Regions from separate parts of the Homo sapiens genome. Here regions 2 and 3 are each reported to be linked to region 1. The links are microRNA targets in miRTarBase. Many come from high-throughput screens and were not tested one by one. Region 1 holds a microRNA gene; each other region holds the end of a gene's coding sequence. Distances are from middle to middle.
What was found. The annotated mature microRNA hsa-miR-660-3p reads ACCUCCUGUGUGCAUGGAUUA and lies in region 1 at 2,791-2,811, opposite strand. An mRNA with a match to its seed (bases 2 to 7 or 8) in the 3' UTR can be bound and repressed. Matches are read on the target gene's strand: a 7mer-m8 pairs with bases 2 to 8, a 7mer-A1 pairs with bases 2 to 7 and ends in A, and an 8mer does both.

Region 2: miRTarBase lists VSIG1 as a target of hsa-miR-660-3p. Seed matches in the 3' UTR shown: 7mer-m8 at 3,450-3,456.
Region 3: the mRNA of DPYSL5 is a reported target of hsa-miR-660-3p. Seed matches in the 3' UTR shown: 7mer-A1 at 1,665-1,671.

The regions. Positions count from the first base shown.
Region 1 is chrX:50,011,029-50,016,102 of GRCh38, reverse strand. It overlaps MIR660 (microRNA 660), which reads right to left and starts at 2,862; the gene lies at 2,766-2,862. The region is part of intron 3 of CLCN5 (chloride voltage-gated channel 5); the gene reads right to left. It overlaps MIR502 (microRNA 502), which reads right to left and starts at 1,505; the gene lies at 1,420-1,505.
Region 2 is chrX:108,076,896-108,081,969 of GRCh38, reverse strand. VSIG1 (V-set and immunoglobulin domain containing 1) reads right to left here. Exons shown (of 7, transcript NM_182607.5): 7 at 2,786-4,922. The coding sequence ends at 4,589. Among named protein-coding and RNA genes, the nearest start is that of PSMD10, 12 kb to the left of the region's middle.
Region 3 is chr2:26,946,534-26,951,607 of GRCh38, forward strand. DPYSL5 (dihydropyrimidinase like 5) reads left to right here. Exons shown (of 13, transcript NM_020134.4): 13 at 377-3,818. The coding sequence ends at 462. LOC124905979 (a long non-coding RNA gene) reads right to left here. Exons shown (of 3, transcript XR_007086251.1): 3 at 3,982-4,048. Among named protein-coding and RNA genes, the nearest start is that of MAPRE3, 22 kb to the right of the region's middle. RefSeq lists an enhancer at 3,036-3,536.

The DNA.
Region 1 (5,074 bases):
TTCCTGGAGGATGCTGATGCTGCTAGTCTTGGGCATCAAGAGAGGTATAAAGTCTGATAAAATAAGACTAAGGCTGAGCAGTAACCAAAATGAGATTTTAGAGTATACAAAAGATAAGGAGCACATATTAAATAACCTGAATCTTTACTGCAGGTTAGATTGGGAGAATCTGGGAGAGAAGAAGGACCAAGGATCAGAATCTATAAGTCCCAAATGTTTAAGAACTTGAGGACTGAAATGGAGTGTGTGTCTCTTTCTGTCTCTGTCACCACTATTTATAATACTGTATTGCTACGCTGACCTGAACACTATAAATTTGCAATGGGCAATGAGCAAAAATGATAAGATGGGGAGGAATGAATAGATCAGCTTAGCTAAGAAGAGAGTAACAACTGAAGAATACTGCTGAGGTCACAGTAGAAAGCACTCAGGCTCAGGCGCTAAGGATGGGAGGAGGGGAGTGAATCAGATCATGGGCACCTGTACTCCCTAGGTGAGAGAGAGAGAGAGATGGAGAGACGGACAGAGAGAGCGATAGACTGAAACAGAGACATGTATAGTCCATCTCTATTTGACTAAAGTAAGGTAATATAAAGATATAGGCTGTTCTCATTTCCATATTGTGTGGGGTGCATACAAGATCAGCAATAAGAAGGGTCCCTTGCTCTTCACCCCCTCTAATTCAAGAAGAGTCTGTAATAGACATCTAAAGGCAGCTCACAGTTCTACTCAGGATGTCCTGGAAGATAAAGGGCAGCTTATAAGCTCAAACTCCTATACATTCTGTAAGTGTAAATCTTCATGAATGTGTGCATCTCCCTGTCCTCAGAGGGGACAGAGTGGGGGGAATAGGAAGACTCTCTCTTTGGCCCCCATCATTTGTGCCCGTCTGAATTTTTCTTCTAAAGCTGCCCATCAGAGAGCACATCCAGTGATTTTGACTCTCGTTTGTCACTGCATCCTTAACACTAAAAAGAGTATCTGTCACACTCTAGAAACTCAAGATATAGGAAGGCAAGAAAAGAGACATATATGCACTCAGTCCATATATATACATATAGGTAGGCAAGGCTCCATCTCATTGAATCCTTGGCTTAATACTTGAGACAGCACTCACATCTAGGTTGGAAGGAAGTGAGGGAGCAAATCAGAAGGCTCTGGTTCCCGCCCACCACCCTGTGTGTGGACAGCAGGTGGGGAACACAGAGAAAGCTCACTGTCTCACTCTGGATACCTGCATACATGGACATTATTTAATAAGGACATTTATTCTAATACACAGACAAGCCCACCAGAGCACCTGAAGTCCCTAACTATTCTGTTCTGTGCTTCCCCAACACACACCCATCACTCAAAAACTATGACAGGGGAGGGTGGGAGGGGTGATGTCTAGGCTCTCTGTCCTTCTTGGTACAGTTGAGCTCCCCCTCTCTGAATCCTTGCCCAGGTGCATTGCATTGAGCCAGCACTAGCACCCAGATAGCAAGGATTAGAGAGGGGGAGCAGGGCAGAAGGCTTGGGCACCTGCCGTGCTCGAAGCAGAGAAGGTTCTCTGTTACACAGCTCTGTGTGAGAACAGGAATGAGAGTCTTGCATTGTGTATATGTTGGGAGAGGGTGTCAATAAGAAGTCCCATGTTGTGGCCCACACTAACTCAGCACGTGCAGGAATATTAGGTGACAAAAAGTCAAGTCTCCTACACATATTCTTTGAGGCAAGAACCAAGTCCATCTTGTGTGATACCATATGCCCACTGCCCTGGCAGCACAGCGTTAGCATGTACTAAGTGCTCAATACTTGTGAAAGGGAGGTAGAGGGGAAGGAGAGGGAGGAGGAAGTGTGACTCACAGGCACTTTGTCTGTCTATGGGCAGAAAAAGGCCCCTCTGAGAGTCCTGGAATAGGTGCTGCACTGAGACAGCATGCACATTTAGGTGGCAAGGATACAAGGGGAAGCAGAGCAGCAGGCTCAGGATGTGCACACCACATATATTTGCACAGGTACCCATGTCTGTGGGAGGGAATAAAGAAAAGCCTGATTTCTGGCACCCTGAGCCCATGTATTCACAGGAAGTTGGATGACATGAGGATGCTTATTCTCCATGAGCCTGCTAGACAGTAAGGTCGGCATCTCTGACAGGTTAGTTTACTGTGGCATTCCCAAACAGCAGGAATTCAGTAAATTTGTTAAAGGGATGAATAAATGAATGGACCAAAAACATGCACACACAAATGACTGACTGAAAGAATGAACAAAGGAAAGAGAAGGGATGGACAGGCTCTGTCCTACACATAGGCAAGGCTCACAAGCTGGTATCCTTGCACAAGCCCATTGCACTGCTAAGACAGCACTTGTGCCTAGGCTGCAAGGCTAGGAGAGGGCAAGCAAAAATCAAAGTCCAGGCACCTGCACACCAGGCATGCATCTGAGTGTGTGTGGCAAGGAAACTTGCAGGCAAGTTTAGATAATAAGGCTCCTTCCTTTCAGCTTTGTACAGAAATGTTTCTACACTTACACATGTGTGTGTGCACATGCATGCACAATGTGAGCATGTGTATTCATAAGAGAATGAGAAGGCTCAATTCCTGACACACCTGTGTCTGTTGCCTAGGCCTGGGGAAGTCTAGGCACCTAATACCTCCACTAGATAGGAAGTCCCGGAGAGAGACACTGTCCATTATTTAGCAGGGTACTCCCAGCACAGCTCATGGCACATCAAAAGTGCGCAATAAACACGGGCTACTTGGATTGTTCAGCAGAAGATTCACGATGACAAGGCTCACCCTCCTGTAATCCATGCACACAGGAGGTGTTTTGAGAATTCACAACTCCGATATGCAATGGGTATGGGAGAAGGAGCAGTTCATTCTTCTGCACATGGGAGGGGGGTGGGGGAGGAGAGAGAAAGAAAGACAGAAAGAGAGAAAGAGAGAGAGAGGAGAGAGATTGATTGATTGATTGAGAGAGAGACAGATTGAGATTAAAGTGTCAGGTGCACGCCTGGAGAAGCAGTGCCAAGTCTATTCCCTAATAAAGTACTTGTTGTGTGTTCACTTAGCCTCATGTGCTCACTGAATGTGTGGTTATGGAGGAGGTGGAGACAGTAATGAAATGATGGCTTCCCTGCCACAGTCTGCATGGACTCGGCATTGGGAACGTACATGAGCAATGCAGGAGCTCATTCTCTTCCACCCTTCACCTGACTAGCTTATCACTGCCCCTAGCTAGCACTTATACTAAATCAGTGATTCTCAAACTTAAGTGAGCATCAGAATCAGTTGAGAGCCTTGGTAAAGTACAGATTTCCATGGTTTATGGTGTAGTAGGTCAGGGATGAGCCCAAGAATTGGCATTTTGAACAAGCTCCTAGGTGATACAGATGCTGCTGGCCCAGGGACCACACTGAGAACCACTGCTCTATACATAACTTAAAGAAATGAAATAATGGGACATAGAGGGGTGATGCAAAGACTCTACACTTTTAAACATGGATGAGATTCCCTCTCTGAATTTTTGTACAAGGCAATGGACTGGAATAGCATTTGTACCCAACTACGAAGAATGAAAGAGAGGGACAACCTGAATAGAAGGCTCGAGCATCTTCAAATCCATTGTGTTTGTGTGTATGTACAAAAGAAACAGCACTCTCTGGCTCACAGGTGATTTTCCTATGACCATACAAAGGTGAAGTGTCTTTTCTTCATATGCATGTGTGAGATGACTGACAAGTAGGGCCACTTTCCTTCAAGCTCTGGTGGCATAAGCAGCAAGTAGAAAGCCTATTGCCTTGCACACCAGACATGAGTGAGAAGATGCTGCTAATGACACTCATTATCCTATGCACACTGTGGCTGCAGCTCTGTGTAAGGGGAGACACACCTTTTGTAGTTCTCTAGCTGAGCACTGTTGGGGGGTTGGAGAGGGGATGATGGGAAGACTCACTCTCTGCTACATACGTATGCATGAACAATGTGGGCAACGGAAGTTCCTTCTCTTAAACATGCTCACTAGGCATGTGAGTATGAGTTCTGTGTCTTTCTTGACCACCCTGTCTCTCCATGTCTGGTGCATGACAGGAGCGCCACCCCTGCTTGTTAAAGGTGGGAATGAATGAAGGATGGGGATTATAAACAGGTGTTCTTCGCTCTATGCAGAAAAGGCTCAGCCGTGGAATGCTTGCCTGGGTGCACCGCATTGACACAGCACTTGCATCCAGGTACCAGGATTCAAGAGGGGGAACAGGACTGAAGGCCCAAGCAGCCATACAGAGTATGTGTGTGTGCACGTGTGCGTGTGTGCACATGTGCTCACATGGGTTTACAGGGAAGGCTCACCGCATATAGTGTGTTCATCTGTGACTGTACAGAAAAGTAATGAAAGGATCTCTCCTATACAGAGCAGCAAGAAGGAAAGTAGCAGTAAGAAGACTTCCCTCATTTAATCCCCATCTATAAGGGAGTTAAGGAAGCTCACTGGCTTGCACGCTGAGAATGGGAGAGAGGAGAGCACAACAGGCTCCATCTCCTACCCTTTCAGTAGGTGGGGTTCTCTGCATGCAGGGCCATGTCTCTGAGTGTGTCTGGTGTACAAGGATTGGGGACATTTGAGAATTTCACTTGAGCAGAACCTGCACATGCTTGTGCATGCAGACTGGGTAACAAGGAACATATAGATCTACTTCATTCTTTTGAACAGTGGCCTATTCATCCACAACATTTATGTATAGTGTGTTTATGAGTCCCTACCAGAATGTAGGGTAGCAACCTGTCCATTTTGATCCCTGCTATATCCTTGGTGATGAACATAATACCTGCTGTCTAATAGACACTTGAGTATCTGTGGAAGGAAGAGGAGGGAGAGTTGATGTGCAAAAGCTCTGTCCTTTTAAGTGTAGACAAGGCTTCTTCCCTTGGAATTCTTGAAAAGGGACAGTGAGTCAAGGCAGTACTGGCACACAGGCTGAAAGAATGTGAGTGATGCACCAGGTCAGAGGGACCACTCTGTGAGGACATGTCTCTGTGGATGTAACCAAGTCAGGCCCTTTCTCTTGCACACAGCGTATTTATGTGTGATT
Region 2 (5,074 bases), 58 Mb from region 1:
CAGGGAGGGAAGAGGGGCTGGAGATTGAGTTAATAGTTGATCATACCTATGTGATGAAGCCTCCATAAAAATTCATAAACTACAGGGTTTGGTGAGCATCTAGGTTGGTGACACACCCACATGCCAGAAGAGTGGTACACCCCCACTCCATGGGAACAGAAGCTCCTATGTTCAGGACCCTTCTGGACCTCACCCTATGTACTTCTTCAGCTGGCCATTCATCTGTATCCTTTATAATGTCCTTTATAATAAACTGGTGGACAACAGTGTTTCCTTGAGTTCTATGAGCCATTACAGCAAATTATCAAACTTGAGGTTGCGGGAACCCCCAATTTGTACCCAAGTCTAACAGAAGTGTGGGTACACTGGGCACCCAATACTTGTGATGTGTCTGAAGTTGGGGGCAGTCTTGTCAGACCCAACCCTGGGTAGTGTCAGAATTGAATTAAATTGCAGGACACCCAGTCAGTGTCTGCAGAGAATTGGAGAATTACTTGGTGTGGAAACCCCACACATTTGCTTTCTGAAGTGTTGTGAGTAGTGGAACAGTTTTTCTTTATTGGCATATCTTTTTATGGTTTCCTGGAGCCCTCATTATCATCTCTGAATTATTTGTTTTGTTTTTAAACCAAAGTTTCAAAGACAAGTGGGAGTACTGAGTCTTTATCGATTAGTTTAAACCTTTTATGAGGCCCACTGATGTGTTTTCCAGCAGGTAGACATTGTAAAACAACTTTTTATTACTAAAGCTTGGGTTTGTTTCACTGAAATTAGTAGTTTGGTGCAGTTGAAAAGCATTGCCCTGAAATCCAGATGATGTGGATCTAGTTTTGACTTTGCGTAATCTCAGGCAGATTATTTTACTTCTCTGCACTCAGGGATTCTCCTCTAGGGGCTGGGTGGCAATATATAAGAGTGAACCAGCTTTTTAAAAGAACATTTACCCCTTCCTGTCTCCCCCACCAATAATTTAATTGTACATCATCTCCCACCTCCAGCTTCATCATTGTTAGGAGTGGCCCACTGTATGTGTTATAACTCAGGTGTGCTGGGGTTGAAAAAGTTTGAATACTATTTATTTCAGAGCACTCTTCTAGCTCTGATCAAAGTTGATCAAAACTGAGTTGCCCAGAGTAGATTGAATGGGTGGTAAACCACCTGGTTTGATTTGAGAGGGGCTGAGAAGTTTCCTTTTTTCAGAAATATATCTCCTCTGGATTGTTTAGACTCTTCAGATTAAGGATTATCTGTGCTTGAGTCCTCTTTAAAAGGTAAATACTCCAAAGAAGACTAACTCATTTATCAACCTAATGAGATCACTGAATGATGAAAGATCATGTTCACTGGACAAGAACAGGTTACAGAACAGCTACTTTAGGTCCTGCGCAATGAGTCTTGCCCGAGGGAAGAAGAACTGAGAGGGTCACTGAGCTAATGGGAGCATGAGAATCCTGGGTGTTTGGAAAATAAGATGCCACAAGGCCAGAAATGGCACTGAAAGGAGAGATCCAAAGGTACGAATTCAGATTAATCTCATGTGCTTCCTAACCTTGCCCATGTAGGGTTTCTGCCTGGGCAACATGTACTTCATATTTTTAAATCCAGATTTTTCTATTTATTCCTGTCAAATTCATTTTGTTGGTTTCAACTCCACTTTTGAGCTATCAAGATCATTCTGAATCGTGATTCTTTCTTATAGCCTAGTGGCCATTCCCCCTAGGAGCAAGTCATCCACAAATTTATTAAGTGTACTTTGTGTGTTTTGATCTAAGTAACTGTTTCTTCATCTTGGATTCAGGGAGTCTGTAACTCACCTGAAACTATATGTGACACTTTATGTGTATAAGCATCTTTCAGTGAAGATGAGTTTAGAGTTTTCAGCAGATTCTCAAGGTGTTCCATGACCTCAGAAAAAGGTTACAAGCCACTGATCCAACTATTCATCAGTATTTTGAACAGAACAGTGCTAATAAGGACAGAGCTCTATAAGACTACCAGTAGTGCTTTCTTTCCTGGACTGCACTGATCCATCAAAAATTTTGGGGTGTAATTGTTGACTATTACATGTCAGTCTCTTGCGATTTGCCTCTATAATAAAAATGGAAAGGAAAAATGAATTCCAGCTACTTGGGCATTCTGGTAATTGAGATGTTTACACTGTTGTTTACTTTTTAATCTCTAAATATTAGGTCATTCTTAAGACCTTCATTATTTTGCTTCTTGTGTCCATCAGACACCATATACCATACTATCATATTTAGTATGAATGAAATTATAAATGCATCAGAAATCCCTGACATTTTCTGAAAATGGACGCATCGAAGAAAATGCAGAAATAAACGCTTGCTATCTCTTCTCTCCATGGCTCTAGATAAGTGTAATGTTAATTTCCATTTTAACTCTCCTTAAAACCTACAGAGACTCTACCTCAATCTGTGTATGGTTATGATTTATATAGAAAGGAGTTTGCAGTTTAAGAAAATATTTTACATGAAAATCTGAAAGTGATAAATGAGAAACTCACTACTTTGTTTAAAAAGGATTCACCTTAGAAGGAAGTGAGACACAAAAAGTACATACTGTATCATCCCATATGTATGAGGGCCAAGAAAAGGCAAAGTTAACCTCTAGTGATGGAAAACAATGAGTGATTTCCTAGGTCCAGGGCAATGGTGGGATCGCACAAAGGGGCATGAAGAAACATTTTGGGCTGATGGAAATGTTTTCTCTCTAGATGGGTGTGGTGGTTTCATGGGTATGTGCTCTGTCAAAACTCATCAAATTGTACACTTTAAATGTCTGGTTTATTATACATAAATGCTATGTCAGAAAAAGTTGTTTATAAAAGGACTAGCCTTAGGAGTCACTAAAATGAGACATTATGAGTATTATTTATTGAGCCTTAAAGTAAGATTTAAATATGATTAATTCCACAAGTGAAAAGGTAAGTCTACCTGTAAGTTTCTTCAAGGTGAGATGTGGGTGAAATATGATCATGAGAAAGCTTTTCAACAGGGGAAGAAGAAGTGATATCAGTGCATTTTAGTAATATTAGCATTCATATAAGATTGGTATCGCTTTATTAATGTGGAATGTACAGGCAGTAAAACAGGTTATTTAATTAGTTGAAATTATCTAAAATAGATCTTAAGAGTTCACTTAGAACACTTTTCTGGACTGCCTTTCAAAGTAGATAACATCAGACACAGTGATAACATAATAACTCATTCAAAACTAAATTGTACATCACCTATGATATCAACATTTTGTATTCACTGAAGGAAATTATATTTGAAAGTGTTTGCCTGTACATTATTTGACAAAGTTGTGGGGATTTTTTGTTTTTTGTTTGTTTGTTTTCTGTTTTTGTTTTTGTTTTTCAGATGGAATCTCACTCTGTCACCCAGGTTGGAGTGCAGTGGCACAATCTCGGCTCACTGCAACCTCCACCTCCTGGGTTCAAGCGATTCTCCTGCCTCAGCCTCCCAAGTAGCTGGGATTACAGGCATGCACTACCACGCCCAGCTAATTTTTGTATTTTTAGTAGAGAAGGGGTTTCGCCATGTTGGCCAGGCTGGTCTCGAACTCCTGACCTCAGGTGATCCACCTGCCTCGGCCTCCCAAAGTGCTAGGGTTACAGGCAAGAAATTGTGTTATTTTTTAAATTTGCCATGCTCAGATATTGGATACCAGGGTGATTTCTTGGGAAATCTAATATGAGGAATGAAGCATTAATTATAAGACCTGATTTTAAATGCTACGTACCAATTAATGTATACCCTTTACATATTCTCCTCTATTGTATTTGGAGAAAATTTTCCAATCTATGAGATAATGCTGATGAATTATTTTCTTAGTGGTCAATATAAAAATGAATGAGGAACTATTCCTAGAAATAATATTGAATCTAATTAATGCCACCTTGTCATATGTGCATGTGGAACATAAGAGTAGCTAAAAAGAGGCCGGGCGCAGTGGCTCATGCCTGTAATCCCAGCATTTTGGGAGGCCAAGGTGGGCGGATCATGAGGTCAGGAGATGGAGACCATCCTGGCTAACAACGTGAAACCCCATCTCTACTAAAAATACAAAAAATTAGCCGGGCGTGGTGGCACGTGCCTGTAGTCCCAGCTACTCAGGAGGCTCAGGCAGGAGAATCGCTTGAACCCAGGGAGCGGAGGTTGCAGTGAGCCGAGATCGCACCACTACGATCACAGCCTGCGCGACGGAGCAAGACTCTGTCTAAAATAAAAAAAAAGAGTAGTTAAAAAGAGAGAAATAATATTTTCTGAAATAACAACACAGGTACTGTTGCAAAACTCAACTAAGTTAGAAATCACTTGCCCTGTCATTTGTTATGCTTACGTGTTAGTAAAATTGTTAGTATTCTATATTGGTAATACAGGAACCCTTGCTGATTTAGCTGTTATCTTGGCGTGTTTATTCTGGATTCATAGTAGGAATGAGCACCTTGTTAGAAGAAGGTTGGTCAAAATGGAAGGAGGAGGTGGAGGTTGGTTAGGTTATTTGAATTCCAAATGGCAGTAATGGGTTCCTTAATGATTAATGCTGTACTTAGGCCACCAGCCTATGCCTTAACCACTCCCTTTTCATCTTCACTTAAGGGCTCAACTACAACCCCAGGCTCTGACTCTGGCTCTGGCTCTGGCTCTGGCTCCAATTCCGACTGCGTTTCTGGCTCCAGCTCCAGCTCGATGTCAAGGTCAGGCACTGCCATAGGCTCTGATCCTGGGGCAGGCTCTGGGGCAGGCTCCTGAGTAGGCTTTGGCTCATAGTCTGGTTCTTGGATGGTATCAGGGCCAGTCTCATGAATGGAAGATGGTAGAGTTACTTCTAGTTGGGTAGCGTCTTCTCTTGGCATTGCTTCGCTTTCTCCCCTTGGGTTTATCTTTGTCATTGGCCTGCAAGAAAGAAGGCCCAGAAAAGAACAAGTTAGGGAGATGCTAACTTTGAAATTTCATGTGAAACCATATGTTCTGTAGCTTCAATGACCATAGGTCCCAGACTTCAGGAAATCTGTTATTTCTGATATTCTGACTCATTGTCAGGCCAT
Region 3 (5,074 bases), not on the chromosome of region 1:
CATTTTTCTCTCTCGCTTACTCACTGAGGCATATGTACAAAGGCCCATGTGCCAACAGGCTGGCCAATGACCTGCATGTACGAGAGACTGTATGCCTAGGCATGGGGCAGTGAAGTTGGCACAGTGGGCAGTTAATAATGTCGGCTCTGAATCAGGAAAACCTGGGTCCAAGTCCAGGCTCTGCCACTTACACACTGCAACATGGGGCAAGTCACTTAACTTCCCTGAGCCTCTGTCTCCTCATCTATAAGATGGGATGGAGTGGCTGTGAGGATTCACTCAGGCCATGCACACAGTGAGCCTCCAGGAGAGGGTGTCTGTGGTTTGTTAGCAGGCACAAGAGCCCGTCTCACCCTCTGTGCTTCCTTCCCTGCAGGCTCTCAGATCGATGACCATGTTCCAAAGCGAGCTTCAGCTCGGATCCTCGCTCCTCCCGGAGGCAGGTCGAGTGGCATTTGGTAAAGGCATTGCCAAGCCCCCCGAGTGAGGACGCACCGCCGCCACCAGCCCGCAACTCTCCAGCCGAAGCTGCAGGGGCAGGAGAGGCTGGGCTGGGTGGCACACCACCCGAGGGGGGCCCCGGGACCCACGGAGCCCTCCCTATGTCTGCAAAGTGATTCACTGTGCTTCGAGCCAACTCTAACAGGCACTTTGAGATGTGTTCCTCCTGCTGTAGTCCTTTCTGCCTTGGCCTCGGCGGGCTTTTCTGGGGCCCAGGAAGCCCACACTATGCACAGAGCCCAATGCATAGAGCCCTGGCCAGCCCTTCCTCTCACTCCTGCCTCCGCTGGCTTTGGGAAAGCCCAGACTTTAGTGCCCTGCCCCCTGGCTGACTGGCCAGTTGCCCAGAGCACTTTAGCAGATGTGGTTTCAAAGTAAAGGCCTCCTCCCCCACCCCTTAGGCCCCGTGGTGACATTTCCCAAGTCAGACAGATGTCAGCTTCCCAGCCATGCCCAGGACGTCCTATCTCCCCCAACCCACCTCTGGCCCTGTGTAGGGGCAGGGATGGGGGTGGCTGGGACTCCTGGTGCCCCTCGCCAGCTTCTCCTGCGCCCCGCCCACACCCTCGGGGGGTCACAGGCCCAGAAGGGTAGCTGGGCGGGGCTCGAGGCTGGTGCCAGGCGCGTGTAAATGGTTTTGTTTTGCACGTTTGGTTTGCGCAGTAGTTTGGTTTGACTTGTTTGTGCATCCTGTGAAAAATAACGGTGCTTGTGTCACTAGCATAGAATAGCGACAGGAATAGATGTGGTCCTTAGGAGACGCTGCACTTGACACCAACCAGACAGCACAGGGCAGGGGTGGTGGAGGGGGCTGGGCTCACAGGCCTCTCTTTTCCCCGCCTGCAGTCTTCTGGGCTGCGGGAGGCCCTGGCCCTTTCCCCTTCCCCTCCCCTCCTTGTCTAGTTTCCCACATTCCAAAAGGGGGCCTGGGATGCTAGCCCCAGAGATGCCAGCCCTTCAGGAAGCAGGTGTCCTTTCCCCTCTCTGCCCCTGATCACTCCCAGCACTCCCCTTGCCTTCCCCTGTCTTCACCTGCCACCACACACACACACACACACACACACACACACACACACGCACGGCTTCCTATAACTTCTTCCTGCTGGACAGAGACTCAGCGCTCCTCCTGTGTGACTGGCAAGAGGCCTCATGCCTGCTGAGAGAGGAGGAGTGGGAGAGGGGCTTGCCAGACACCAGAGAGGGAGACCCCAGGCCCACAGGACCTGGCTGTCGAACCCGCATTGCTGCTCAGGTGCCGTGATCTCCCGTGGTCGGCACCAGGCCCTTGCCAGCTCATGGCCTCATCTTCTCCCCTGTCCATCCAGGTGGGCCCTCCCTGCTTCTAAAGCCCCACAGAAGTTCCCATGGAAACACTAGAGGCCGGGTGTCTCCTTCCACCTCCAGTGATCTGGGAAGTGACCCAGCCGCCTGCCCTTGTTAAGCCTGGTCTGCCCCGTGGGAAGTGACTTCATGTTGCACATGTGATTTCAGCCCCCGAGGCTTGCGCGAGGCTTCTGGACCCTCGGTTAAAGGTCAGCCCCTGGCCGGGTGCGGTGGCTCACGCCTGTAATCCCAGCACTTTGGGAGGCCAAGGCGGGTGGATCATGGAGTCAGGAGATCGAGACCATCCTGGCTAACACGGTGAAACCCCGTCTCTACTAAAAATACAAAAATTACCCAGGCGTGGTGGCGGGCGCCTGTAGTCCCAGCTACTGAGGAGGCTGAGGCAGGAGAATAGCGTGAACCCGGGAGGCGGAGCTTGCAGTGAGCCAAGATCACGCCACTGCACTTCAGCCTGGACGACAGAGTGAGACTCCATCTCAAAAAACAGACAAACAAAAAAGTCAGCCCCTGCACATCTCTGTAGTGCTTTTCATGTATTCAAACCACTTCCGTATATGACCTCTCACTTAGTCCTCATGACAATGGAGCACTTATTATTCTTCCCATTTTACAGATGAGGAAACTAAGACCCAGAAAGTTCAGGTCCTCTGACCCCAGAAGTGTCTGTGATGACCCTCCCAACCTTGGCTATCTACCCCACCTGTGGAGAGGAGGTCTGGGGTGACATCTATTGTAGATCCCACCTGAGAGTTTAACCAATGAGAAGACTTACTTTCCTGGTAGGCAGCCTGCTTTGTTTTGCACAGGAAGATAGATTTTTTTTCTCATCTTTCTTATAAACAACCTCATGCACATTCTGTGTTTGAGCCAAGACTAGTCACCCATTGGGGGCTAACCGTGCAGTGTGAGCTGCGTCCACACCCTCACTTCTCCCTTCACTCCCCCTTTCCTCACTCAGGGGCTGAGAGGACAGAGGTGGTCAGCCGGGGAGCAGAGGTGGCGAAGGGGCTCATGGCAAGTGGCAGCCATTGGAACAGGGGTGAGGACCCAGGCCTGGGAAAGCCACCAGGGATGGGGGAAACCATGACGCCGCCTCCTGGTGCAGTGCACACCATCTCTATCCCTGTCAGCCCTCACTGGGTCATGGGCCTTGGGCAGATGTCAAAGAGCCCAGCAGCAGCGGTGGTGGCCAGCTGGGCAGAGCATCCTTGCTTGGGCTAGGAAAGCTTTACCTTCTCTGAGTGCCTCCGCCTGAGAGATGTGTGACCCGTGGCACCAGGGAACCACGTCTTGGAGTGGTCCACTGTAGGCCATGCGCTTCATCCACCCCCAGTCCCTACATAGGCCCTACCCTTGCCCGGGAGCTTCTAGATAGAAATCAGAAAGAGATTCAAGGAGCCAAATGAGCGGTCAGCCCCCACCATGCACTCCTTGCCCCGTGCAGAGCTCCAGCCAGCTTCGTCACCAGCCCCACTGGCTCCTGGTTGGAACGAAAGGGTCTCTGGTTGCACTGAATGCAGCTCTCAAACTGGTCTTGTACTTGCTGAATAAATACTGTTGTTCTTGCCTTAGCTGCTCTCTAGGTTTGTGGGGTTAAGTTGCCAGAAAATTGTGCTACTGTGTGTGCGTGTGCGTGCGTGTGTGTAGTGCTAGGAGTCCACAGTAGGTCTCTGTCAAGCCGATGTCGTGATGAGGGCTTTTCTGATACTGACCCAGAAGCCACAGAACCACAAGGAAACCCAAACCCCCTCCAGCTGCTGAGGCGCAGGCACAGCCTGGGGTCGGATGGAGCCTCCAGCACCCCAGCACCCAGGTGACTTCCCCACTCCCCTGTAAATGTCATGGTGCTAAGACTGTGTCAACCCCAAGACGACACATGGTCCTGTGCTTTGGCCACCGTTTGAGGCAAAAACTAAACAGCCCGACACGTTGTGTTCTGGTGCAGGTTTGTATTAAACTGTAGCTACTTCTCACTTGGACTCTGTTGTGTTTCTTCAAAGAGGAGGGAGTTTGGCAGAGATCTCTTCTACGGTGGCTGGGCAAGGCTTCAGTTGCTAAGAAAAGGCAGCTTTGATCTGTCTCTCCTATTGGGTGGCAGCTCACTGGGAGGCTTGTGCAGAGACTGGATTTTTTTTTTTTTTTAATTCTGAGAGACAGGAGCCCCAGTGGTGCCAGATTTCCAGGGACAAGGTTGCCAAATTATCTGAAATAATTAGGAGGAAGAATTAGATGCAAAAGGGAAAAAAACTAGACTCACTCCATCTACCTATAGTCGCGTATTCTCTTGGCTACCATTTTGGAAGCCCATAGCCACCTCTCCACTCGGCAGAACGTTTGGCTGATGGAACGATGGCCTCATAAAAAAAAAAAATCACAAGACAAAGCGCTGTCCCAAGGCCAATATGCCTTTGAAGGACCTTCCAGCTGCTCTCCGGCTGTCTAGAACCCCGCTTTTGGAGTTGGCCCTCTGTAGTCTCAACCCCATCCATTGCATTGAGACCCCTCTACCTTCCCTCTAGAGCTCAGTCAGATGTTAGGAGGATTATCTGATTAAACTCTTTCACACTAAAGGGTAAAACTGTGGCTTCTAAGGCCGGGTGCTGTGGCTCATGCCTGTGATCCCAGCACTTTGGGAGGCCGAAGCGGGTGGATCACCTAAGGTCAGGAGTTTCAGACCAGCCTGACCAACATGGAGAAACCCCGTCTCTACTAAAAAAAATACAAAATTAGCCAGGTGTGGTGGTGCATGCCTGTAATCCCAGGTACTCAGGAGGCTGAGGCAGGAGAATCGCTTGAACCCGGGAGGCGGAGGTTGCAGTGAGCCAAGATCGCGCCATTACACTCCAGCCTGGGCAACAAGAGTGAAGCTCTGTCTCAAAAAAAATAAAAATAAAAATAAACTGTGGCTTCTAGTACTATGTGGTCACTGTACTTATTTCTTAACATTAAAATTCGAAGGTTGAGATGGATTTGCCAGCTTGAGATGGATGCCGAGTCCCTGCAATGTATTGGGCCAAAGTGTCTGTTACCCTGTTTTCCCACAACAGGAGAGCACACCAGAATTGGGTTAACTGCCAAAAATCCATTGGGTTTGGATGAAAAAAATAATATGACCACACATTTGGCACAAGGCGTCTATCAGGCAGTCTACAGGGAAAAAATAAAAGATACCCAGGAAGACATAGGGTGCCTTTTTATGTATGTAGTTGTAGAAAAATCAAAGACCACA